Regions from separate parts of the Homo sapiens genome. Here all the other regions are linked to region 1. The links come from fine-mapping of genetic effects on gene expression. A gene starts in region 1. Each other region holds a variant in brackets. All regions are shown on one strand. Distances are between the middles of the regions.

Region 1 (5,102 bases):
TCTTTAATTTTTATAAGTACATGGTGTGTATATTTATGGGATACATGAGATTTTTTTTTTTTGAGACGGAGTCTCTCCCTGTTGCTCAGGAGTGCAGTGGTGCGATCTCTGCTCACTGCAACCCATACCTCCCAGGTTCCAGCGATTCTCCTGAGTAGCTGAGATTACAGGCATGCACCACCACGCCCTGCTAATTTTTATATTTTTAGTAGAGATGGAGTTTCGCCATGTTGGCTAGGCTGGTCTCGAACTTCTGGCCTCAAGTAATCCGCCTGCCTCGGCCTCCCAAAGTGCTGGGATTACAGCACCACACCCGGCCTCACTTCATTCCTTTTTATGGCTGAATAATATTCAATGATATGGAGAAACCTCATTTTACTTATCTGTTCATCTATTGATGAACATTTGGGTTGTTTCCACTTTTTGCTATTATAAATAATGCTGCTTTGAACATTTGTGTACAAATTTTTGCATGGACTCTTATATACATTTAAAAATATGGCCAGGTGTGGTGGCTCATGCCTGTAATCCCAGCACTTTGGGAGGCCAAGGTGGGTGGATCACTTGAACCCAGGAGTTCAAGAGCAGCCTGGGCAACATGGTGAAACCCATCTCTACAGAAAAATGCAAAAATTAGCTGGGCATGGTGGGGAACACCTGTAGTCCCAGCAAGTCGGAAGGCTGAGGTGGGAGGATTGCTTGAGCCTGGGAAGTGGAGGTTGCAGTGAGCCGTGATTTCACCACTGCATTCCAGCCTGGGTGACAGAGTGAGACCCTGTCTCAAAACACAAATAAACAAACCAAAACAAATTTTATTACACATTTTATTACAGAAGGAGTAGGATTAAAAATAAAACAAAATAAAAAGTACATTTAATTGATTTTCTTTAAAATATTCAGCTGGGGTTTAAATTGAAATTACATAGAAATTATATATTAGTTTGGATAGACTTGACATCTTTATAAAATGAAATTGCCTCATCCAGGAACATGTATTGTGTCTTCATTTATTCAGATGATCTTTTTTTGTTTTTGAGACGGAGTCTTGCTCTGTCGCCCAGGCTGGAATGCAGTGGCACCATCTCAGCTCACTGCAACCTCTGCCTCTCAGGTTCAAGCAGTTCTCCTCCTCCTCAGCCTCCTGAGTAGCTGAGATTACAGGCGCGTGTCACCATGCCTGGCTAATTTTTGTATTTTCAGTAGAGATGGGGTTTCACCATGTTGGCCAGGCTGGTCTCAAACTCCTGACCTCAGGTGATACACCCACTTCGGCCTCCCAAAGTGCTGGGATTACGAGCATGAGCCACCGCGCCTGGCCTATTGTAATTTTTTTTTTTCAGACAACAGAAAAGTATAAAGGAGAAAGTAACAAACCATTAGTTACCTCCCCAGAGATAACCATTGATGACATTTCCTCCCCAACATTTTTCCCCCTATGGATACACATACATTTTTTCAAGATCTTGTTTCCTTTGATATGTCATTTTAGTGGCTTGAACTTATTTCTGGAACAATATATGGGTAAAGTCTATGCATATATGTATCTATGTATATATCTATCTATGGAAAACAAGTAGATATAGACAGTAAAATAAAGACAGAGACAAGACAGCGGTTGGAGAGATGAAAGGAGAGAAAGTCATAGACAAGGAGAGACATATGGGGAGAGGAAGACACAGAGAGAGCTGTGGGCACATAAGGGCAGAAAGATAAACACAGAGAGCCATGGAGAGATGAAAGTATTGGGCTGGGGCCAGGCATGGTGGCTCAACGCCTGTAATCCCAGCACTTTGGGAGGCCGAGGAGGGCCGATTGCTTGAGCTCAGAAGTTGGAGACCAACCTGGCAACATGACGAAACCCCATCTCTACAAAAATACAAAAATTAGCCAGGCGTGGTGGTGGGCACCTGTAGTCCCAGCTACTTGGCAGGCTGAGGCATGAGAATTGGTTGAACCCTGGAGGTGGAGATTGCAGTGAGCTGAGATCCGGCCACTGTCCTCCAGCCTGGAGGACACAGCGAGACACTGTCAGAAAAAAAAAAACACAAAGAGACAAGGAGAGGATGGAAAGGAGCATTTATGGAGCTCCTACTGAATGTCATTCTAAACCTCCAAGGTCACTTTGAGGGAGGCTGTCAGTAGTAACCCCTTTACGCCGCTGAGAGCCTGAGCCTTAGAATGGCCAACTGAGCTGTCCATGGTCACATCACCTAGATTGAACCCATCTCCCTGGCGCGGGCCGGGCCCACTGCGGGTGATCCATTAACTATTTATCTAATGAACAAACTAAAGTCCATCTCCTCCCCCAGGAAGAGAGATGAGGACCAGACCCCCATTCCACTCCACTGAGTCAATTTTTCTTGCCTGTTTTCCTGTCTACTAAGGTAACAGTAAGGTCGGTTGCCCCAGCAACTGCCCTCCGACTGCCATGGCAACCGCCAGCTCTCCACCTTGCCCTTTGGGCATCTCCATGGCGACGGGAGGTCTGGTGGGGCTGCCAGCTCCCCAGGCTGCGCCTGCGTCGGTCGGGTGGGTGGGGTGGGGGCGGGGGGGGGGGGGCCTGGTTCCGGGCGTGCGCAGCCGCAGAGCGCCGCAGCCTCGCCAGCTCGCCCCGGCACTGCGCACTTGCCAGCCAGTCCGCCCGTCCGGAGCCCGGCTCGCTGGGGCAGCATGGCGGGGTCGCCGCTGCTCTGGGGGCCGCGGGCCGGGGGCGTCGGCCTTTTGGTGCTGCTGCTGCTCGGCCTGTTTCGGCCGCCCCCCGCGCTCTGCGCGCGGCCGGTAAAGGTGCGACCCCAGTCCGGCGAGGGGTGGGGGTTGGGGGAGGATGCCACCGGCGAGGGTTGGGGTTGGGGCTGCGCCGCCTCACCCCCGCCCGAGCCGGCTCCCGGGACGTGCGGAGAGATCGACGAGGGTGGCCCGGGCTCCGGCCGCCGGTCCGCGCCCAGGCCACGCCGGCACACCTGAGACCTGACTTGGTCTCTGCCTGTGCGGGTGGCGTTGTCCGGGGCGCCGCCGGTAACCGTGCCCTGCCCACCTCTCCGTGCCCGGTGCCTGTGACGCTGTCCACGGCACTAAGGCGCTTTAAGAAAGGGCGCGCGCGCATCAGTGTGTGTGCGTGTGATGTGAGGAGAGCGGTGTGGAGGTGTCGTGTCCTTGAAAGTGTGTGTTCTTTGGTTTGAGCGCTTCCAAGTGTCCTAGAAAGGTGCCGTGGTGCGTCTGGGTGTGTAGTGTGTGTGATACCGGGATACTTCTGTGCGCGATTCTTTTGTGCGTCCGATTGTTTTCTCAGTGACACCGTGTGGATATTTGTGAATCCTTATTATGTGTGTTGGCTTGGCCTATGGGCGTGTCTCTCTCTCTCTCTCTCTGTCTCTCTCTCTCTGTGTGTGTGTGTGTGTGTGTGTGTGTGTGTGTGTGTGTGTGATTTCGTTTGTGTTTGAGAGGGAATGGTCTTCGCATCTCCGTGTGCACATTCCATAGTGGTTCTGTTGGACCAAGTGCCTGGGATTTCGTTTGCGTGTTCCTGAGACTGTTTCTCTCCGTTTCTTTGTGGAGCTGTGTCATCCTGAGGAGAGGAGCCATGATGTCTCTCTGCTGCATTGTGTCTTTAAGGATGGTGCATGTCCTTGCACCTGGGTGGCTTGGCGATTGTAACTGCAGGAGCAGCTGCGGATGTGAACGTGTGCAGGTCCTTGCATGTGGCTGTGGCAGTGTTGGGCTGTATATGTGACATCTCCAGGCCTGTCAGTCCTCATGAGTGTGTGTGAGGCTGTGATTGCTGGTGAGTGTGATACCCCGGGGTGACTGAGGAGTGGTGGGCGCCAGCAAGGGCACTTGGAGAGGCATCCTCCTCTAGCTCTTCAATACTGTCTGCATCAAAGATGGGAATTAAAAAAAACTGTTACCTTATATCCGTGTAACAATGTGTTTAATATATATGTACAATGTAAAGAATGATGACAAAATAACTCTCTCGTGTAGCAGTCACTCAGCTTAATAAATAGAGCCTGACCAAGAGTTAGAAGCCCCTGCGTGCCCCTCGCCATGGCAGCCCCTGTCCCCACACAGTCCTTATTCTGTATTTTCTGTCCATTGATCCCTTACTTTTGTTTGTAGCTTATCACATATGTGTAGCTCTCAAAAAAAATCCATTGTTTAGTTTTTCCTGCTTTTGAACATCATTGAAACGGAATCATACTGGGTGACTGGTTCCTCGTAGTCACTAGGGGTCACTAGGAAGTCCTCAGGGTGTCTAGTAGTCTCAGGCAGTCTGCAGTGAAATTCTGGAACTTGACGTTTTTTTTTCCCTTGGCTCTATTCTGGTCACGAGATTCATCCAAGTTGATGCATGTGGCTGTAATTCATTTATTTTTATTGCTGCATAATATTACATCCTATGAGGACATCATGATTTATATATGTATTCTCAATTTGTCAGTGGACATTGGACTGTTTCCAGGCTTTTCTTTCTCCCCCGCCCTTTTATGCTATTACGAACAGTGCTGCTGTCATCTTTCACGAACTTGTGACCAGTAGCGTATGTGCCAAAGCTGCTCTGGGGAGTGACATCCCAGGAGTGGGTCATAGGATATGTGCATCTTTTTAGATATTGTCAAACCGCTCTGCAAAATTACTTTGCCAGTTTAATTCTCACCAGCATAGTATGAGAGTTCCCATTTTTCTGCATTCATATCAACACTTCATATTATCAGACTTTTTGATTTGGGTCAATCTTTTGGTTATATTATGCATAGTATCTCCCTGGCATTTTAATTTGCTTTCCCCTGATTACTAATGAGGTTTTTAATTTTATTTTATGTTTGTTAGAGACAGGGTCTTCCTCTGTCATGCACGCTGGAGTGCAGTGGTGCGATCTGGGCTCACTGCAACCTTGAGCTTCTGGACTCAGGTGATCCTCCCACCTCATCTTCCCAAGTAGCTGGGACTATGGGCTTGTGCCCCGCTCATTTTTTTTGGTTTTATTTTTTGTAGAGACAGGGTCTCGCCATTTTGACCAGGCTGGTCTCAAACTCCTGGCCTCAAGCGATCTTCCTGCCTTGGCCTCCCAAAGTGCTGGGATTACAGGCATGAACCACTACACG
Region 2 (5,102 bases), 430 kb before region 1:
GATGAGGGCAGCCGGGAACGAACGCAGAGGCCCAAAAAGTGGGAGATCCCGCGGGTTGCGTAGGCGGTGGAACGGTAGCTAGAGAGAGAGAACAGCCAATGGAGAGCCACGCGTGGGATGACGACAATGGCTGCAGCGAGCCAATGGGGAGGCTTGTGAGCGTGCACTGCGGCTTCGAAGGGGTGGTGCCAAGGTGGAGCTAGCCAATACGAAGGCTAAAAGGAGACCAAGAGGCGGGTGTGTAGGGAGCCGAGCCAATGGAGGTGGAGGCTGAAGGCGGGAGCGAGGACGAGAGCTGGCGGATAGCCAATGAGGGAGCCAGGGTGAAGGCGTAGAGACCTCAAAGGACAGTACTAGTATGGGATGAGCCAATGCCGAGGCTAGATAGTGCAGCGGGACGGAGGGAGGACTTGGAGGCAAGATGGGGAAAAAAGCAGAGCCGACGGGGGCAGTGTAGGTGGTGTGAAGGGAGGCATGAGTAGCCAATAAGGAGGCTGGAGAGGAGGACGCTGTGTAGACAGAGTCTGAGGTATTGGGTGGCCGGACAGCAGAACCATAGAACGCAGGCAGCCATTAGGAAAAATGTGCTTCTCAGGGATGGGGTTACCCTCTCCCTAACCCTCCGTGACTCCCCATTGCCCCAGGAATACCCAGAGCCCCTGAAGGCCTAGACCACACCTTGGTGTGTGAACTAGGAAAGTGAAAATGACTGTCCTGTTGCAGTTAGTTACTTACTGGGTCCTCCCTGCCCAACTACAACCTTTTCTTGAGCAGTGCCACAAGCCAAGAATGCCCCTGATTGTTAGCCGCAAGCACTCTCCAGGACTTGATACTATTGTTGAATGAATGGCCGAATAGGAAATTTAACTTTCTGAAGGATTCACTTTTTTAAATTTCAGCTCAGCAAACACTGACCTGACTGTGTGCTACCAGAAGTTGATTGGGCATATGGGTAGCTTCTGACTAATGGAATCACAATCAAAGCCCTGTCCTTCTTGCCCAACCTGACACTCCACACCCCACAGGGGCCTCACCTCCCTTCTTTCTGTCCCCCCATCTCTGCTTCTACTGTTCCCTCTCCCAAGAGTGCTGTTCCTTCTGCTGCTTCCATCTAGTAAACTCCTTTCGCTCTCCCTTTGGGGTCTCACCTTCTGTGGGAACTCAACTGCAGCTTTTGTCCGCTGAACACATCCATTCATACATTCCTTCTCCATCCTGGGAAGATTTACTGAACACCTACTGAGTGCCAGGTTCTGAGCATGCTGTTATCTCATTAGAACCTCACAGCATCCTAGGAGGGAGGTGATCCTTCCAGCAGCCCCTCTCCCCAGGTCTCCATGTTCAGGATGTCCATGAGTTAGAAATGAATATGTTCAGCTGCAAGTAACAGAAAAATCATAAAATAATGGGGGCTTAAGCAAGACAGAACTTTATTTTTTTCTCACCTAAAAGTTCAAGCTGGCAAATAGTCCAGGGACTCCTTCCTGCCCACCTGGTTTGGGCATTGTCTGTCCCGATCTGGCTCCAAGACTCTCAGTCTTCAACAAATCCTTTTGGCTGTCTATTAAAAATATTTACCAAATCCATCCTCTTCTCACCACCTCCACTGCCAGCACTATCACCAGTCACCTAGACTACTGCAGTAGCCAGCTCCTTGCTGGTCCCCTGCTTCCACATTCAGGCCCTAGACCCCATTGTACACTCAGCATTCAGGGGCTTCCTGTTAAATCCTAACACGGTTTGTGTTTCTCCTCTGCTTGCAACCCTGTCATGCCTTCCTCCTCACTCAGCGTTGAAGCCAAAGTCCTTACCATGGCCTACAAGGTCCTGCGTGGTCTAACCTCCGAGTCCCCTTTCTGACCTCACCTCCAGCTTCTCTTCTTGCTCTCTCCACACTAACCACACCAGCCCCCTTGTAGACCTTGAACAAATCAGGTACATTCCCACCTCAGGACCTTTGCCCTGGCTGTTTCCTTTGGAGTTCCTCAGATATCTAGCTGGCTCCCTCCCTCATCTCCTTCAAGTCTTTGTCAGAGGCCCCTGTCTCTGGGGACTTTTCCTGACCCGTTTAATCTTGCCTACTCACCCCCAACTCCCAGCCCTCCCAGTCTCCTTCCCGAGAAGCCCTCCATGAGAGAGGATATAGTCCAGTATAGAGGGGAGGTAGCGACCTCTACCCCTCTCTGCCCTCCTGACCCCAGCCCCCATTCTGCAAGGATCTTGG[C/T]TTTCAGCAGCCGTAGCATTTCCCTCTCACACCCTGGGCCTGCCCAAGGGGCCAGCTCACATTCTCGGCCACCATCCTCACTTCGTTTGCCTCCTATATCTCTGGCCACTCTCTTTCATGGAGTGAGTGACAGTAAGGGACAGATGGTCTGGGGAAGGTATAAGGAGAATGCAGCCCACACCTCTGATCCTGAGAGAGAAAACTAGCCCCCTTTTCCAGGAGGGGGACAGGTGCTGGGGCAGGGAACAATGCCTCTGCTGATAGAACTGGCCTGGTTTATAATTACGCAGGAGGTGTAGGGAACATTCCGACCCAAGTCTGCAGGGAGCAAGGGGTTATTAACTATGGGAACATCAGTGCAAGGGATCATTAACCTTAGGACCATCACTGCAAGGGGTCATTAACCTTGGGGCCATCACTAGAATCAGCTCCCCAGGACTCCTTCCTGACATGCATGCTCCTCACCCCCTCCCTTGCTCCCTCCCACATGCCGTGACATCTGTTAAACACCTGCTGTTCACAGGGTCCCTGCAGGCCTCCAAGCAGGGGACCTCATCCCACCTTGGTGCCTCCCCTGGCTGTCCAACACACCCAAGCCATTTTTGGGTCTCAGATGTGTCCCACCAACTCAGAAGCCTCAACCAGCGAAAGTTTTGTTTTGAACTAATGGTGGGGAGGGTTGGGTGTTTTTTTTTTTTTTTAATTGTTGTTGGCTGATTTTTTTAAGGTCTTTTTTTTTCTATTCTTTTTTTTTTTTTTTCTTGTCTTCACAAAGCCAGGCCATCAGGCCCATTCTGGGCTTTTCCAGAAGGGTGAGTCTGAGTTGAGGAAAGAGGCCCTCCTTTTTACGAGGGCTTAGAAGGTTGGGGGAGGAAAGGGGGCAAAGGGGTGAAGGGGTGGATCTTGGCCACCAGATTTGTACCATGTAAATAAAAAGCCCTTTCCAATTTCTCTTCCCCAGGTCTGAAGCCAGTCTTGTAGAGGGCTGGAGTGGTTGTTGGACGACTAGAACCCTGGGCTTTGCAGGGTGCTGGGAGCTGGAAGTCTTCACCATGGCCTGTCAGGAGAAGCCCCTGGGGGCTGGTCTACCATGCTGACCAGTGGTTGAATAGAGTGCCTGCTGAGGTCAAGAGATGCAGCCGCCAATTCCTGGACAACCTAAAAGCCTCACAAGCTTCAAGTCTCCAAGGACTCTCCAAATCCCAGGATCTCCCTGCCATCACATCCTAGAATTTAAAACCTGAGAACATCAAGTTCAGGAAAGCTTGGGGATTTCAAAGCCCAGCACCAAAGAAAGCGGGACCCACACTCGCCAGCTCTGTGATCTTGGGCAAGTTGCTTGACTACTTATACCTCCGTTTCCCTCATCTGTATAACAGGAATACAATAATGATGAGATGGAGCTCAAGGGGCCATGGTGAGGATTGAACATGATCACTTGTGAGACATGTTCAGCACTGTATCTGACCCATGGAAAATTCAAGATAAACATCAGCTACTGAGATGATGGCGGATATTTGGAATCCTAAATCCTTGGAAACTGGGGCTTTTTGAAGTAAAAGACCCCAAAGGCTGAGGGCCTCAGAAGCATCAGGCCATGATGTTCCTGAAACAAGAGGGTCAGGGTCCCAATGGGCCTCTGGGGTTCATCGTGAGGATGGATGCATTAATATTGGGGACCTGCTAGGGACCTTCCCAGTGGGACAGTGGCTGGGTCAGGGCACTCAAGCCCTAAAACGTGATGAGGCGAGACTTTTCTCTCTTTCCTCATTCAGTAACTGTCAGTAGATTCTGGGAGCCAGGGATTCTCCGACTCTTCAAGTCCATGAATTTTAGGGGATGACAGTGGGCTCTCCGCTTTCTCCTCCATGAAGTAACTTACATGCCCCTCACCCTCTGTGGGAGGGGTGTTGCAGGGGGTGCAGAACTCCCCTCGCCGGGTAGTTCAAGCAATGGGGACCATATCAATTCCATCTATAGGGAAACTGAGGCCTGGAGTAGGGCGAGGCCTCTGGGAACCCAGCCCTATTCTGTCTCTTTCCCTGGCATTTCCCATCCACACATAGAGCTTCAGATTCTCTTTCTTTCCCCAGAGACCCTCAAATATCCTCTCACTCACAGAATGGTGTCTCTGCCTGCCTCGGGTTGGCCCTGTGATTTATTTTAGTTCTTTTCCCTTGTTTTTTTTTTTTCAAACTCTATACACTTTTGTTTTAAAAACTGTGGTTTCTCATGAGCCCTATTATCTCATTGATACCTCTCACCTCTGTGGTGAGGGGAAGAAATCATATTTTCAGATGACTCGTAAAGGGCAAAGAAAAAAACCCAAAATTTCAAAATTTCCGTTTAAGTCTCATAATCAAGAAAAGGAGAAACACAGAGAGAGAGAAAAAAAAAACTATGAGAACCCCTCCCCACCCCGTGATTATCAGCGCACACACTCATCGAAAAAAATTTGGATTATTAGAAGAGAGAGGTCTGCGGCTTCCACACCGTACAGCGTGGTTTTTCTTCTCGGTATAAAAGCAAAGTTGTTTTTGATACGTGACAGTTTCCCACAAGCCAGGCTGATCCTTTTCTGTCAGTCCACTTCACCAAGGTGAGTGTCCCTGCTCTCCCCTACCAGATGTGGGCCCCATTGGAGGAGATGGCAGGGAGGTAGGCACGGCGGGGGGGTCAGGGGCCCTCTGGTACAGTGGGATGTACCCAGCTACCGTGATTCCAGCCAGGTAAGGTCTTTAAAAAAATAATAGAATAAATGGCAGAAGACTTAAAGGTGAAGTACTTAATGCATGGGCAGGGGCAAAAATAAATGAATTCATCAATTGATACGTAGATGGATAGGATTTTTAAAATATGTCAGCTGCCAGTCTTTATG
Region 3 (5,102 bases), 63 kb after region 1:
ACCGCCTCATTAGACATCAGAAGCTGTCCTAGCAATTTTTTTTTTCAAGTCAGAGTCTCGCTCTGTCACCCAGGAAGGAGTGCAGTGGTGCAATCTCAGCTCACTGCAACCTCTGCCTCCAGGTTCAAGCAATTCTGGTGCCTCAGCCTCCCAAGTAGCTGGGACTACAGGCATGCGCCACCACAGCCAGCTAATTTTTGTATTTTTAGTAGACACGGGGTTTTGCCATGTTGGCCAGGCTGGTCTCAAACTCCTGACCTCAGTGATCCACCTACCTCGGCCTCCCAAAGTGCTGGGATTACAGGCGTGAGCCACTGTGTCCAACCTGCCCCAACAGTTTTTATCTGCATTCCCTCTTTTCCGTGTTTTCTTTTTCTCCAAACCATTTACCAACCTGTAACATACTTAATATTTTACCTACTTAGTTTTATTTATTTTCTTTCTCTCCCACTAGAATGGCAACTCCACCAACAGGGGTATGCTTATCTCCTTTGCTCAATGCTGTCTCTCCAGTGCCTGGAACAGGGCCTGGCACACAGGTGGTTAACATATGTATTTTAGTTGACTGAATGGTGGAGGGGGGGCAGAAACAGGAAATCTGACCTTGTCCCACCTAACCTGCCACAAGCTATGCTTCAATTGAGATGATTTGGCTTATTTCTTTATTTATTTTGTGGAGGTGGGTGGTCTCACTATGTTGCCCAGGCTGGTCTCGAATTCTTTGATCTACTAGATCCAAAGGTAGAAAGTGCTAAATACCCTGAGAGTGAGACTAGAGAAGGCTCTCCTGAAAGAGGTAGTATCACCTGGTGCTGGTCCTGGAAGGTCTGATGGGAATAAGAGATCCTGGGATTCTGCGAGGCCCAGGAATGGAGAAAACAGCAGGCAGCAGCTGGAGGAGTGAGAAAAGTTAGGAAAGGATGAAGACAATGGCATCACTGACAAGGAGAAATCTGTCAGGGGCCTTGAATCCCGAGGTGATGACCCTAGATTCGGTGCTCAGAGGCGTCATACCCTGGTCATAGGCCTCCGACCGAACAGCTCAGAGATCTCACACCCTACATAAACACCCATGCATGGCGCCAATACAGTAACGAAGACCCCGTATTCATTGAGAGGTTATGCATTTATTAGGCCAACTTTGATGACATACAGACATGTAGGTTTGGTCCCAAACCTGTCTTGGGTCCCCCCTCAGCAGGATGTGTGAAGTGCCTAAGTCCTCAGTCTTTGGAGATCTCTGGGCCTGGGTGGGGGTTTGCAGGAAGGAAAGGAGAGGGCGACATCAAGGGGGACAGAATGGAGGAGGTCCAGCCTCCATCACGAGGAGATGTAGTTGGACACCTCAATCAGATTTCTGTCGGGGTCTCGGAAGTAGATGGACATGATAGGCCCTTTTGCCCCTGTTCTGGGGACTGGCCCCTCCTCAATAGGGACATCACAAGCCTGAAGTGGGAAGAAAAGACAAAAGTCGTTCGTCAAAATGTGTGTGTGAGACCAAAATTTAATGCCTTTTTTTTTTTTTTGTGACAGAGTCTCGCTCCGTCACCCAGGCTGGAGTGCAGTGGTGAGATCTCAGCTCACTGCAACCTCCGCTGCCTCCTAGGCTCAAGCAATTCTCCCACCTCAGCCTCCTGAGTAGCTGGGATTACAGGCGCATGCCACCATGCCCAGCTATTTTTCATAGAGACGAGGTCTTGCTGTGCTGCCCAGGCTGGTCTCGAACTCCTGACCTCAAGTGATCCGCCCGCCTCAGCCTCCTAAAGTGCTGGAATTATAGGCATGAACCACTGCGCCTGGCCTGTAAAATTTAATTCCTTATAGTGGCCTAGAAGACCTTAGAACACCGCTGTATCTTTCTGACCTCATCTCCTACCATCCTCCCCTCCATCACTCCGTTCCAGCCACTTATCAGCTAGATGGCCTTGGGCACAGTACCTAACTACCCTGTACCTCGATCTCCTCATCTGTAAAATGGGAAGGATAATAGTACCTAGTATTATCTAGTAAATGGCAGAACCAGAATTCGAACCTAGGCAGTCTGGGTCAACGACCATACTCTTAACCCCTATGCTTCACCCATTTTACTTCCAAACCAGTCTTTTTCACTGACACTTCCCAAAGAAGGAGTCTAGGTTATTTGCACAGAATATATATAAGACCTCAATCCGTGTTCTGCAAAAGGGAAACTAAAACCCCTTTTATTTATTTATTGTAGAGATGGGGCCTTGCTCTGTCACACTGACTAGAATGGAGTGGTGCGATCACAGCTCACTACAGCCTCAACCTGGGCTCAAACGATCCTCCCACCTCTTAGCCTCCCAAGTAGCTGAGACTACAGGCACACACCGCCACGTCTGGCTAATTTTTTTTTGTATTTTATGTAGACACAGGGTCTCGCCATGTTACCCAGG[C/T]TGGTCTCAAATTCCTGGGTTCAAGTGATCCTCCCTCCTTGGCCTCCTAAAGCACTGGGATTACAGGCATGAGCCACTGTGCCCCAGCCTTATTTTAATTTTTTAGAGACAGGGTCTTGCTGTATCACCCAGGCTGGAGTGCAGTGGCGTGATCATAGCTCACTGTAGCCTCCACCTCCTGGGCTCAAGTGATCCTCCCACTTCACCCTCTTGAATAGCTAGGATTACGGGCATGCACTACCATGCCTGGCTACTCTGTTTATTTTTTTTAAGAGATGGGATCTCACTATGTTGCCCAGGCTGGTCTGGAACTCCTGGCCCAAATGATCCTGCCACCTCAGCCTCCCAAAGTGCTGGGATTACAGGCGTGAGTGACCGTGCCCAACCAATGCCTCTTCTAGATGACATCATTTTAAGTATTACAGAGACACTGGATTAAATAACAACAAATCAGAAATTATTCCCTCTCCAATCTTCTTTCAGTCCTTCTTTTTACACATAGAAGGTGGATGCTAACAAGTTCTTAGTATCTCTTTAACCACCTGCCATATCTCCCTTTGTAATGTCAGGGCCAGGGAGTACAGGGAACGGAAGTGGCTAGAATCTAATGACATTGTTATGCTTTCATAGCTGTTGGTTTTTACAGTTACTTTTCCTTTATGCCAAGATATAATGGGTTTTTCATGTACTTGGATGAACGTTTTCTTTTTATATAAATGTATTTAGGGCTGGGCACGTGGCTCATGCCTGTAATGGCCAGCACTTTGGGAGGCCGAGGTGGGCGGAGCACTTGAGGTCAGGAGTTTGAGACCAGCCTGGCCAACGTGGTGAAACCCTGTCTCTACTAAAACTACAAAAATTAGCCAGGTGTGGTGGCACGCACCTGTAGTACCAGCAACTTGGGAGGCTGAGGCAGGAGAATCGCTTGAACCCAGGAGGTGGAGGTTGCAGTGAGCCGAGATCAAGCCACTATACTACAGCCTGGGTAACAGAGCAAGACTCTGTCTCAAAAAAAAAAAAAAAAAGTATTTCAGTGCATAAATGTAGGTTTGTTTGTTTGTTTGTTTGTTTTACAATGGGAACGCACAGTTTCCTTTTTAAACACATTTATTTACATGAAAGAATTGTCAGTCAAAATAGTACATAACTGTGTGCAGACATTATCTGGTTGTGGTAAAACTTGTTACCTCTCTGGGTCATTCTTCTGTTTTCACTGCGTTTGCAGCAGCTTTTGCAAAAAGAAGAGAAGTCCCACTCACCTTGAGGTGCTGGATCATTTCCTCCAAAGGCACCTCTGTGATCAGACATATGTCCAGGGAGCCAGGAACTGGGTGAGCGGCTTTGGGTTCAAATTCCTTTCCCACCTCGTGGAGGTTAAATTTCTGGTCTCCAAAACACAGTGCTTTCCGGTCTTCCTACTTGGTGGGGAGGGGCAGAGAAAACAGCCTAGAATTAAACCTCCAAGATGAGTGTGAGATGAAGCCTTTCCACCTATCCCAACAAGGTTTAAAAAAAATAAAAACTAGAATGGGGCTACTACACAACAGCCCTTTGCCCCACCCAAGGCTCATTCCCTAGAGGCAAGTGTACGAGTTTATTTCTCCTTGAAATTATTTCCATATCTCCAAATAGTGTTTATACCACTCAAGGCAGAGATAGCAATTTGCCTACCCAGTATACATTTCCCCTTTATTTCTTATAAACACAACAGAAATTTCAGTGGGGTCAACCGTGTACCCAACTTTAAAAACCTACATTTCCCAGCACGTCCGGAGGCCACGTTAGCTGGACCAGGCAATGAGATGGGGGCAGAGGTGTGGATGGGGCTTCTGGGAACCTCCCAACCCTACTGCGCTGGCCCTTATTGCTCATTCACTTCCTCTTGCTTCCCAGCCACTGCCCATGACCTGACTAACTACCTCTGGACTGGTTGTTCAGTGAAACGAAAAGAAAACTCTTGTCTTGTTTAACCCACAGTTAGTTGAGTTTTCTCCTACATGCCTCCAAAGTCCCTAACTGATGCACCACTGTTTGTTTGTTTATTTATTTATTTATTTATTATTATTTGAGACAGAGTCTTGCTCTGTTGCCCAGGCTGGAGTGCAGTGGCACCATTTTGGCTTACCGCAACCTCCACATCCCTGGTTCAGGTGATTCTCGTGCCTCAGCCTCTGGAGTAGCTGGGACTACAGGCACACGCCACCATGCCCAGCTAATTTTTATATTTTTAGTAGAGATGGGGTTTTGCTATGTTGGCCAGGCTGGTCTCAAACTCCTGACCTAAGGTGATCTGCCCACCTCAGCCTCCCAAAGTGCTGAGATTACAGGTGTGAGTCACTGTGCCTGGCGTCTTTTTTTTTTTTTTTTTGAGACAGAGTCTTGCTCTGTCGCCCAGCCTTCAGTGCAGTGATCACGGCTCACTGCAGCCTCAACCTCCCAGACTCAAGTGATCCTGCAACCTCAGCCTCTGAGTAGCAGGGACCACAGGCACACCCCACCACGCCTGGCTAATTTTTTTTTATTTTTTGTAGAGACCGGGTCTCCCCGTGTTGCCCAGGCTGGTCTTGAACTCCTGGCTCAAGTGTTCCCCGCCTCGGCCTCCCAAAGTGCTGGGATTACAGATGTGAGCCAGTGTGCCCGGCTGCACCACTATTTCTTGATTTAGCAACTCCCTGCTATGACAAATGA
Region 4 (5,102 bases), 260 kb before region 1:
TCTGGAAGACTGAGACAGGAAGATTACTTGAGCCCAGTGGTTCAAGATTAGCCTGGGCTGGCCGGGCTCAGCGGCTCAAGCCTGTAATCCCAGGGAAGAGAATTGCTTGAACCCAGGAGGTGGAGGTTGCAGTGAGCTGAGGTCGTGCCATTGCACTCCAGCCTGGGTGACAAGAGCAAAGTTCCGTCTCAAAAAAAATATAGCCTGGGCAACATAGTGAGACCTCAAGACCCCATCTCTATTAAAAGAAAACAAAGTATCCAGCTTAAAAACATAATACTGGCCAGGCACAGTGGCTCACACCTGTAATCCCAGCACTTTGGGAGGCCGAGGTCAGATCGAGACCATCCTGGCCAACATGGTGAAACCCCGTCTCTAATACAAAAATTAGCCAGGCATGGTGGTGGGCACCTGTAATCCCAGCTACTTGGGAGGCTGAGGCAGGAGAATGGCTTGAACCCAGGAGGCGGAGGTTGCAGTGAGCCGAGATGGCGCCACTGCACTCCAGCCTGGGTGACAGAGACTCCCTCTAAAAAACAAAACAAAAAAACCATAATACTAAGTGAAAAGAAACAGAATGAGGAAACACAGACCTGCGTGAGTTAGGATTGCAGTTCCCAAACTGTGTTGAGGCACCTCAGAGTGCCATAGTGAATTCTCAGGGACGCTGTAAGATGCTTTAAATTGTTTGAGGGAAATATATGGGTACTCAACATGTCAGATACCTCATAAACTATTCAAGGGAGTTCAAAGTTTCAAAGTTACATTGAACTACTTTTCTTTCAATGACATCTTTTTGCAAAGCTGGGTTTACAGCAGTTTCTGTGATAAAAAGCAAACACCTGACAAAAATCAGCATGGATAAAGTGATTTAGGTGATATCAGACAATCTGATTAAGGTTTGGGAAGGTGTGCAGAGTCTAACAAACATGCATCCATTAATAAGCAATTGTAGTTATTTAACAATTTTTTTTTCTATCTATGTGTTGTCGATTTTCTAAACTGCTACTATTTTTTTAGGACATAAATAGGTATTATATTTTGGTCCAAGCAGGTGGTGGGGGCAGGGCAAGTTAAAAAAAAAATTGGTCCAAGAAACAGAAGTGTTAGGTATTTGTTTTGAAAAAAAATAACATATGCATACACTCATGAAACCATCACCATAATCAAGATAGTGGACATATCATCATCTCCAAGTTTCCTCATGCCCCTTTGTAATTCCCTTCCTAACTGCCCCACCTCATCCCCAAGCAACCACGGATCTGCTTTGTTACTATAGCATACAAAATATAACAAAGTATACAAAATATAACAAAGTGTACAAAATATACTTTGTTATATTTTGCCTTTTTTTTTTTTTTTTTTTTTTTGAGATGGAGTGTTGCTCTGTTGCCCAGGCTGGAGTGCAATGGCGTGGTCTCGCTCACTGCAACCTCCGCCTCCCGGGTTCAAGCGATTCTCCTGCCTCAGCCTCCCGAGTAGCTGGGACTACAGGCAAGTGCCACCACGCCTGGCTAATTTTTTGTAGAGACGGGGTTTCACCGTGTTAGCCAGGATGGTCTCGATCTACTGACCTCGTGATCCACCCGCCTCAGCCTCCCAAAGTGCTGGGATTACAGGCGTGAGCCACCGCGCCTGGCATATTTTGCCTTTTTAAGAGTTTTATATAAGTGCATCTTAGTATGAACTCTTCTAAATTCCTTCTTTTTTTTTTTTTTTTTTTTTTTTTTTTTTGAGACGGAGTCTCGCTCTGTCGCCCAGGTCGGACTGCGGACTGCAGTGGCGCAACCTCGGCTCACTGCAAGCTCCGCTTCCCGGGTTCACGCCATTCTCCTGCCTCAGCCTCCCGAGTAGCTGGGACTACAGGCGCCCGCCACCGCGCCCGGCTAATTTTTTGTATTTTTAGTAGAGACGGGGTTTCACCTTGTTAGCCAGGATGGTCTCGATCTCCTGACCTCATGATCCACCCGCCTCGGCCTCCCAAAGTGCTGGGATTACAGGCGTGAGCCACCGCGCCCGGCCAATTCCTTCTTTCTTTTCTTTATTTTTGAGACGGAGTCTCGCTCTGTCGCCCAGGCTGGAGTGCAGTGGTGCGATCTCGGCTCACTGCAACCTCCACCTCCCGGTTTCAAGTGATTCT[C/T]TTGCCTCAGCCTCTGAAGTAGCTGGGATTACAGACGTGCACCATCACGCCCAGCTAATTTTTGTATTTTTGGTAGAGATGGGGTTTTGCCATGTTGGCCAGGCTGGTCTTGAACTCCTGAGCTCAAGTGATCCACCCGCCTCAGCCTCCCAAAGTGCTGGAATTACAAGCATGAGCCACCAAGACTAGCTCTCTCTAAGTTCTTTCACTCTATAAAAGTTATTGGAAGCCGGGCGCAGTGGCTCACACCTATAACCCCAGCACTTTGGGAGGCCGAGGCGGGCGGATCACGAGGTCAGGAGATTGAGGCTATCCTGGCTAACACGGTGAAACCCCGCCTCTACTAAAAATACAAAAAAAAGTTAGCTGGGCATGGTGGCGGGCGCCACTTGGGAGGCTGCGGCAGGAGAATGGCGTGAACCTGGGAGGCAGAGGTTGCAGTGAGCCGAGATCGCGCCACCGCACTTCAGTGTGGGTGACAGAGCGAGACTCCGTCTCAAAAAAAAAAAAGGCCTGGATTACGGTGGCTCACACCTGTAATCCCAGCACTTTGAGAGGCCGAAGCAGGTGAATCACCTGAGGTCAGGAGTTCAACACCAGCCTAGCCAATGTGGTGAAACTCTGCCCATGTTAAAAATATAAAAATTAGCTGGGCATGGTGGCGGGTGCCTGTAGTCCCAGCCACTTGGGAGGCTGAGGCAGGAGAATTGCTTGAACCCAGGAGGCGGAGGTTGCAGTGAGCTGAGATCGTGCCATTGCTCCAGCCTGGGTGACAAGAGCAAAAAACTCCATCTCAAAAAAAAAAATTATTGGAGATTCACCAGGTTTGTTCCATGTTTCAATAGGTCATTCCTTTTCTTATAGTTGTAAGGTAAGATGTACATATCATAGAACCAACCTCTTCAAAGTGTGCAATTCAGTGGTTTTTAGTACATTCACAAGATTGTGCAGACATCAACACTATCTAATTCAAGAAGCTTTATTTTGGGCCGGGTGTGGTGGCCATGTCTGTATTCCCAACACTTTGGGAGGCACAGCCGGGTGGATCACCTGAGGTCAGGAGTTCCGGACCAGCCTGGCCAACATGATGAAATCCCGTTTCTACTAGAAATACATAATATAGCCGGGCGCGGTGGCAGGCGCCTGTAATCCCAGTTACTCGGAAGGCTGAGGCAGGTGAATCGCTTGAACCTGGGAGGCAGAGGTTGCAGTGAGCCAAGTTCACACCACTGCACTCCAGGCTGGACAGAGTCAGACTCCTGTCTCAAAAAAAAAAACCTTTATTCCTTTATTTCATTACCTCTAAAGGAAACCCCATAGCCATTACCAGTCACTATTCCACCCATCCCCTAGCCTTTAGCTCCTAAAAACCACGAATGTATTTTCTGTCTCTATGAAGTTGCCTATCTTGGTTTTTCATATAAATTAATCATAAAAATATGTGGCCTATTGTGTCTGGCTTATTTCATATAGCATAATATTTTCAAGGTTCATCCATGTTGTACCACACGTATAAGTACAGTACTTCTTTTTTTCTCTTCTTTTCTTTTTTTTTTTTTTTTTGAGATAAGGTTTTGCTCTGTCACCCAGGCTGGAATGCAGTGGCCCGATCTCAGCTCATTGCAACCTCCACCTCCTAGGCTCAAGCGATCTTCCTGCCATAGCCTCCTGAGTAGGTGGGACTACAGGCATGCACCACCATGGCCAGCTACTTTTTTGTAGAGATGGGGTCTCACTATATTGCCTGGCCAACATGGCGAAACTCTGTGTGTACTAAAAATACAATAATTAGTGGGGCGTGGTGGCACATGCCTGTAATTCCAGCTACGTAGGAGGCAGAGGCACAAGAATCGCTTGAACCCAGGAGGCTGAGGTTGTAGTGAGCTGAGATCACACCACTGCACTCCAGCCTGGGTAACAGAGTGAGACTCTGTCTCAAAAAAAACTTTGTCTAGTAATTCCAACATCTGAGCTTCCTCAGTGGAAGTTTTTATTTACCGGTTTTTTTCTTCTTTTTTTCTTTCCTGTGTATGGGCTATGCTTTCTAGTTTATTTATTTTTTGAGATGGAGCCTCCCTCTGTCACCCAGGCTGGAGTGCAGTGGCATGATCTTGCCTCACTGCAGCTTCCGCCTCCTGAGTTCAAGTGATTCTGCCACCTCAGCCTCTTGAGTAGCTGGGATTACAGGCGTGCGCCACCACGCCCAGCTAATTTTTGTATTTTTAGTAGAGACAGAGTTTCACCATGTTGGCCAGGCTGGTCTCGAACTCCTGACCTCAGGTGATCCACCCACCTTGGCCTCCCAAAGTGCTGAGATTACAAGCGTGAGCCACTGTGTCTGGCCTACTTTCTAGTTTCTTTGCATTTTTTAATCTGGACATTTTAAATAATGTGGCAACTCTGAAATTCAGATTGTCTCCTTCCCAGGGTTTGTTGTGGCTGCTGTTTGTTTTTATTATCACTGCTGTTTAGTGACTTCTTTTTGTTTGTTTGTTTGTTTCTGAGATAAGGTCTCCCTCTTGTTGTCTAGGCTGGATTGTAGTGCATGATCATAGCTTACTGCACCTCAAACTCCTGGGTTCAAGCCATCTTCCCATGTCAGCCTCCCAAAGGCATGAGCTACTATGAGCCTGTTTAGCAACTTTTCTGAACTAATTCTATAAAGTGTGTATTCTTTGTTGTGTGTGGCCACTGAAGGCCCTGCTTCATTAGCTTACTGACCAGATAACGGTTAGGCAAAGGTTCCCTTAAATGCCTTGAACCATTACTTCTTCCAGCATTTGCCTAATGTGTGTCCATGTATGTTGGAGAATACCTAGAACACTCCCTCAGGTAGTTCACAACTGTGCCTTAGCCTTCACTTTTTCCTTGCCCAAAGCCTGAAGGTCCCCCACAAATAAGAGCTTAAGGCCTTCTTGGTTCTCTTCGTTGTTGTTGTTGTTGAGACGGAGTTTTGCTCTTG
Region 5 (5,102 bases), 310 kb after region 1:
CAATTTAATAACACAAGATGACTGAGGCCGGGCACAGTGGCTCACACCTGTAATCCCAGTACTTCGGGAGGCCAAGCCAGGAGGACTGTTTGAGCTCAGGAGCTTGAGACCAGCCTGGGCAACATGGCGAAACCCCATCTCTACTAAAAATACAAAAGTTAGCCAGGCACGGTGGCACATGCCTGTAGTCCCAGCTACTCAGGAGACTGAGGCAGGAAGATCGCTTGAGTCTGGGAGGTGGAGGTTGCAGTGAGCCGAGATCACACCATAGCACTCTGGCCTGGGTGACAGAGCCAGACCCTGTTTTAAAAAAAATATGACAGAATCTTACATGAAGGGATCTCAGAGCCCTGATCCTGGAGGTTCCAGGGGCTTCTTGCCACCCTGGGCCACCTCATGTAACCTTCACAGGAGACTTTGTGATGGAGAAGGAGGAGGAGGAAGAAAAATGAACCCTCCCCACCTGAGAGTGCAGGCTCAGAGAAGGGCATGACCTTTCCAGAGCCTCAGGGGGTTTGTCATTCAGTCTGACTTACCCCTGGAAGGGCACCGTTGAGAGATCCCACCCACAGGGATACATCTGTGTCTGTGGATCCCCCATCAACCCCTCTAGTGCCCAGTGCCCCTCTAGTGCCCTTTCCTTACCCACAGAGACCACAAGCTGTAGAATGAAGCGGAGGGGATGCTGGCGGAGAAAGGCGATCACCACCCACAGGCTGAGTGGTCCCCACAGGCAAGCTGTGATGGTTTCCATGCACACTGTGAAGTTGTCACCCCTGCAGGAGAAAGCATGAGGGGACACTGGTATCGGTGTGCTCTTCCTACAGGTTAGCCCATTAGTGCTCCCCAACTCACCACCCCCCGAAAACCAATGCCAGTCTCCATTGACAGAGGCAAACACTTACAGGATGTATCGGCTGTCTCCCTTGGCATACTCTTTCCCTGAAGAAAAGAAGAGAGAGATATGAAGAATAAAGGCAGTGAAAGGAACACACACTTGTGAGAGCTGGGGGTCCCTGCAAGAAGACAGACTTCATAACCTTCCCATGCGTCTGCTTCCTCATCCGTGAAATGGGGTAACTGTTTGGATTCTAGTGGTTTATTTCTCTAAAACAAGGTAATATGTGTAAAGCCTGACACAAAACAGTGTGGCTGTGATTGGTACTCAAGAAGTGTGTGTGGTATAAAAGGAAGCAGGTGTAGATGATGGAGTGAGTGAAGTAGCCAATGAGAGAGAGAGAATGTAGGTGAACAGATGAGTGAATACAAGAGTGAGCAGAGAATCAGAAAGAAAAAGACCGCCGGGCACGATGGCTCATGCCTGTAATCCCAACACTTTGGGAGGCTGAGGTGGGATGATGGCTTGCATAAAGGAGTTCAAGACCAGTCTGAACAATATAGTGAGACCCCCAACTCTATAAAACATACAAAAATTAGCTGGACGTGGTGGCACGTGCCTACAGTCCCAGGCTGCAGTGGGAGGATGTCTTGAGCCCAGGAGGTTGAGGCTGCAGTGAGCTATGATAGCACCACAGTGCTCAGCCTGGACAACAGGGTAAGACCCTGTCTCAAAAAAAAAAAAAAAAAAGAAAGAAAGAAAAAGATCATCCAATATAAAATAGGCAGAAGACTTGAATAGGTTCTTCACAAAGAGGATTTCTAAATGGCCAATAAGTATATGAAAGATGTTCAAACTTCCATTAGTCACTAAGGAAAAGCAAATTAAAACCATAATGAGATATCACTCACATCTACTGGAATGACTAAAATTTAAGAAACATCTGACCAGCCGGGCACAATGGCTCATGCCTGTAATGTTTTTTTTTTTTTTTTTTTTTTTTGAGACGGAGCCTTGCTCTTATCGCTCAGGCTGGAGTGTGCAGTGGCGCAATCTCAGCTCACCACAACCTCCGCCTCCCAGGTCCCAGAGATTCTCCTGCCTCAGCCTCCTGAGTAGCTGGGATTACAGGCACCTGCCACCACGCCCAGCTAATTTTTAGACTTTTAGTAGAGACGGGGTTTCACTATGTTGGCCAGACTGGTCTCAAACTCCTGACCTCAGGTGATCTGCCCGCCTTCGCCTCACAAAGTGCTGGGATTACAGGCATGAGCCACTCTGCCCGGCCTTGTTTATAATGGCAGAAGATTGAGGGAAAATGCCCATCAATACTACACAAGTCAAGCAACTGTACAATGTCCATGCTTTGAAAGCTCTTTATGAAATCATGAGGAGTGACCTCATTAAAAAAAGCAGCTGGGTGCGGTGGCTCATGCTTGTAATCCTAGCACTTTGGGAGGCTGAGGTGGGCAGATCACTTGAAGCCAGGAGTTGGAGAACAGCCTGGGCAACAAAGCAAGACGCCATCTCTTAAAAAAAAAAGTTGTTAAAAAAAAAATAACTTGGTGGGGTGGCACATGCCTATAATCCCAGCTACTAGGGAGGCTGAGGCAGGAGGATTGCTTGATTGCCCAGGAGTTCAAGGTTGCAGTGAGCTATAATCATGCCACTGCACTCTAGCCTGGGTGACAGAGCGAGACCCCGTCTCAAAAAAGAAAATGGCTTCTTTGGTTTTCTTGTAAGGAAAGAAAGAAAAAGAGAAAAGATTAGAAGTATATATAGCATATTACCATTTGTGTAAAAAGGGAAAAGTGCAAATAATGATAATAATAGTGAACAGTTACATGGCAACCACTGTTTGCCAAACACTGTTCTAAGTATCTTACATATAGTTGGTTATT[A/G]CTATTATCCTCCTTTTACAATTGAGCAAATTGAGACTTACGTGTGTAAATAAACTGAAAAGAAACATAAACAACTATCAACAGTGCCTAACAGCGTTTGGGGAAACTTAGTGGATAGAAAGCAGATTTTCACTGCAAATCTCTTTAAATGGTTTTTTGACCCACGTGAATATACATGCAACAAAAAAGTTAAATAAGGCTGGGCACGGTGGTGCGCACCTGTCATCCCAGAATTTTGGGAGGCTGAGGTGGAAGGATTGCTTGAGCCCAGGAGTTAAAGAACAGCCTGAGCAACATAGCAAGACCTTGTCTCTACAAAAAAGTGAAAATATTAGCCAGGCATAAAGGTGTGCACCTATAGTATAGTCCCAGCTACTGGGGAGGCTGAGGCAAGACGATCGCTTGAACCCAGGAGTTGGAGGTTGCAGTGAGCAATCATCATACCACTGCACTCCAGCCTGGGCAACAGAGCAAGACCTTGTCTCAAAAATAAGTTATCTACCAGTTTTAGAGAAGGGCAAAAAACAAAAAGAATAATAATAACAATACATAATAATTTTTTTTTTGAGACAAAGTCTCACTCTGTTGCCCAGGCTGGAGTGCAATGGCATGGTCTTGGCTCACTGCAACCTCCGCCTCCCAGGTTCAAGCAATTCTCCTGCCTCAGCCTCCCTAGTAGCTGGGATTACAGGCGTGTGCCACCACACCCGGCTAATTTTTGTATTTTTAGTAGAGATGGGGTTTCATCATCTTGGCCTGGCTGGTCTTCAACTCCCGACCTCGTGATCTGCCTGCCTCGGCCTCCCAAAGTGCTGGGATTACAGGCTTGAGCCACCGCGCCTGGCTAATTTTTGTATTTTTAGTAGAGATGGGGTTTTGCCATGTTGACCAGGCTGGTCTCAAATTCCTGACCTCAAGTGATCCACCTGCCTCGGCCTCCCAAAGTGCTGGGATTACAAGCGTGAGCCACTGTGCCCGGCCTATAATAAATTTTTTAAAAGATTAAATAAAAATTTAAAATAAATCAATGGAAGAAGAATAGGTGGATAGGTAAACATGCAAGCCGATCCCTGCCCAGCAAATCCCATCCCACAGCATATGAAAGAAATCAGGACTCACAGAGTTGAGATAAGAAGGCTTGGTCTCCAAGCAGGTCTTCGTAGTAGAGAACGAACCAGCCCTCGATCACCAGGTGAATGAACCCACACACTGCAAACCAGCACAGGGACAGTCGCCGCCAAGTCCCCAATGGGACAACCGCAGCACGACCTGACAACAGCCATGTGGTCACGACTAAGACCCCTGTGACAGAGAAGAGGCCAGCCAGTATATGCCAGGTGGGGCGGTCATTAGGTACAAAGTTGTCCAGTCTTAGGTGCTGAGGCCAGTATGGGTGCAAGGGGCCCGCGTTGGTAGTCATGTCTTTGTGGGCTGATGGCTGCGTGTGTATAGGCAGGAAGTTAAAAAAAAAAAAAAAAAAGGAACAGAAAAACCTGGACAAATAGAAAGTACAGAATGAGATAATAAAATCAAATTCAAATAGTTTATTATCATGAGAAATGTAAATGGACCGAATTTACCAGTTAACAGACAGGATTGTAACACTTCTAATTACATTCCGTTTTTTTTTTTTTTTTTCAGACGGAGTCTTGCTCTGTCACCCAGGCTGGAGTGGAGTGGTGCGACCTCGGCTCACTGCAACCTCTGCCTTCCGGGTTCAAACGATTCTCCTGCCTCAGCCTCCCGAGTAGCTGGGACTACAGGTGCCTGCCACCACGCCCAGCTAATTTTTTGTATTTTTAGTAGAGACGGGGTTTCACCGTGTTAGCCAGGATGGTCTTGATCTCCTGACCTCACGATCCGCCCGCCTCAGCCTCCCAAAGTGCTGGGATTACAGGCGTGAGCCACTGCGCCCGGCCTACATTCTGTTTTAAGACCATGACTAAAGGCCAGGCACCGTGGCAGGTAATTCCAGTGCTTTGGGAGGCTGATGCAGGAGCAGCACCTGAGGCCAGGAATTCAAGTCCGGCCTGGGCAACACAGCGAAACTGTCTCTAAAAAAATAAGAAAATCAGTCAGGTGTGGTGACAAAGGCCTGTAGTCCCAGCTAGTAGGTAGGCTGAGGCAGGAGGATCGCTTTGAGCCCAGGACTTCAAGGCTGAAGTGAGCAGTGACCACATCACTGCCCTCCAGTCTGAGACTCTGCCTCTAAAAAAGAAGGCCGGGCGCGGTGGCTCACGCCTGTAATCCCAGCACTTTGGGAGGCCAAGACGAGTGGACCACTTGAGCTCAGGAGTTCAAGACCAGCCCGGCCAACATGGCAAAACCCCGTCTCTACTAAAAATACAAAAATTAGCCAGGTG

Direction of the effects. Alleles are on the strand shown, and positions count from the first base shown. SD is a standard deviation of normalised expression in the study named. Not every link is listed here.
For the expression in esophagus mucosa of the gene that starts at base 2,593 in region 1, allele G in region 5 goes with a higher level than allele A (large effect, 1.1 SD a copy in GTEx).

Evidence for each region.
Region 2: its variant is fine-mapped to the expression of PCSK1N in whole blood (TOPMed, PIP above 0.99). The same link has a PIP of 0.9 or more in lung.
Region 3: its variant is fine-mapped to the expression of PCSK1N in whole blood (TOPMed, PIP above 0.99).
Region 4: its variant is fine-mapped to the expression of PCSK1N in whole blood (TOPMed, PIP above 0.99).
Region 5: its variant is fine-mapped to the expression of PCSK1N in esophagus mucosa (GTEx, PIP above 0.99). The same link has a PIP of 0.9 or more in lung.

Annotation. Positions count from the first base shown.
Region 1 is chrX:48,833,101-48,838,202 of GRCh38, reverse strand. It overlaps PCSK1N (proprotein convertase subtilisin/kexin type 1 inhibitor), which reads left to right and starts at 2,593. Exons shown (of 3, transcript NM_013271.5): 1 at 2,593-2,784. The coding sequence starts at 2,671.
Region 2 is chrX:49,264,382-49,269,483 of GRCh38, reverse strand. FOXP3 (forkhead box P3) reads left to right here and starts at 4,774. Exons shown (of 12, transcript NM_014009.4): 1 at 4,774-4,823. It overlaps FLICR (FOXP3 regulating long intergenic non-coding RNA), which reads left to right and starts at 3,009. Exons shown (of 2, transcript NR_147988.1): 1 at 3,009-3,036; 2 at 3,186-3,263. RefSeq lists enhancers at 356-405, 103-602. The variant C/T (reference allele first, on the strand shown) is at 2,225.
Region 3 is chrX:48,769,654-48,774,755 of GRCh38, reverse strand. It overlaps GLOD5 (glyoxalase domain containing 5), which reads right to left. Exons shown (of 4, transcript NM_001080489.3): 3 at 3,674-3,829; 4 at 1,108-1,446. The coding sequence ends at 1,321. Among named protein-coding and RNA genes, the nearest start is that of GLOD5, 10 kb to the right of the region's middle. The variant C/T (reference allele first, on the strand shown) is at 2,415.
Region 4 is chrX:49,088,388-49,093,489 of GRCh38, reverse strand. It overlaps a transcript of WDR45 not described here. Among named protein-coding and RNA genes, the nearest start is that of WDR45, 11 kb to the right of the region's middle. The variant C/T (reference allele first, on the strand shown) is at 2,141.
Region 5 is chrX:48,522,829-48,527,930 of GRCh38, reverse strand. EBP (EBP cholestenol delta-isomerase) reads right to left here. Exons shown (of 5, transcript NM_006579.3): 2 at 3,859-4,232; 3 at 906-942; 4 at 646-776. The coding sequence starts at 4,159. Among named protein-coding and RNA genes, the nearest start is that of EBP, 3.6 kb to the right of the region's middle. The variant A/G (reference allele first, on the strand shown) is at 2,740.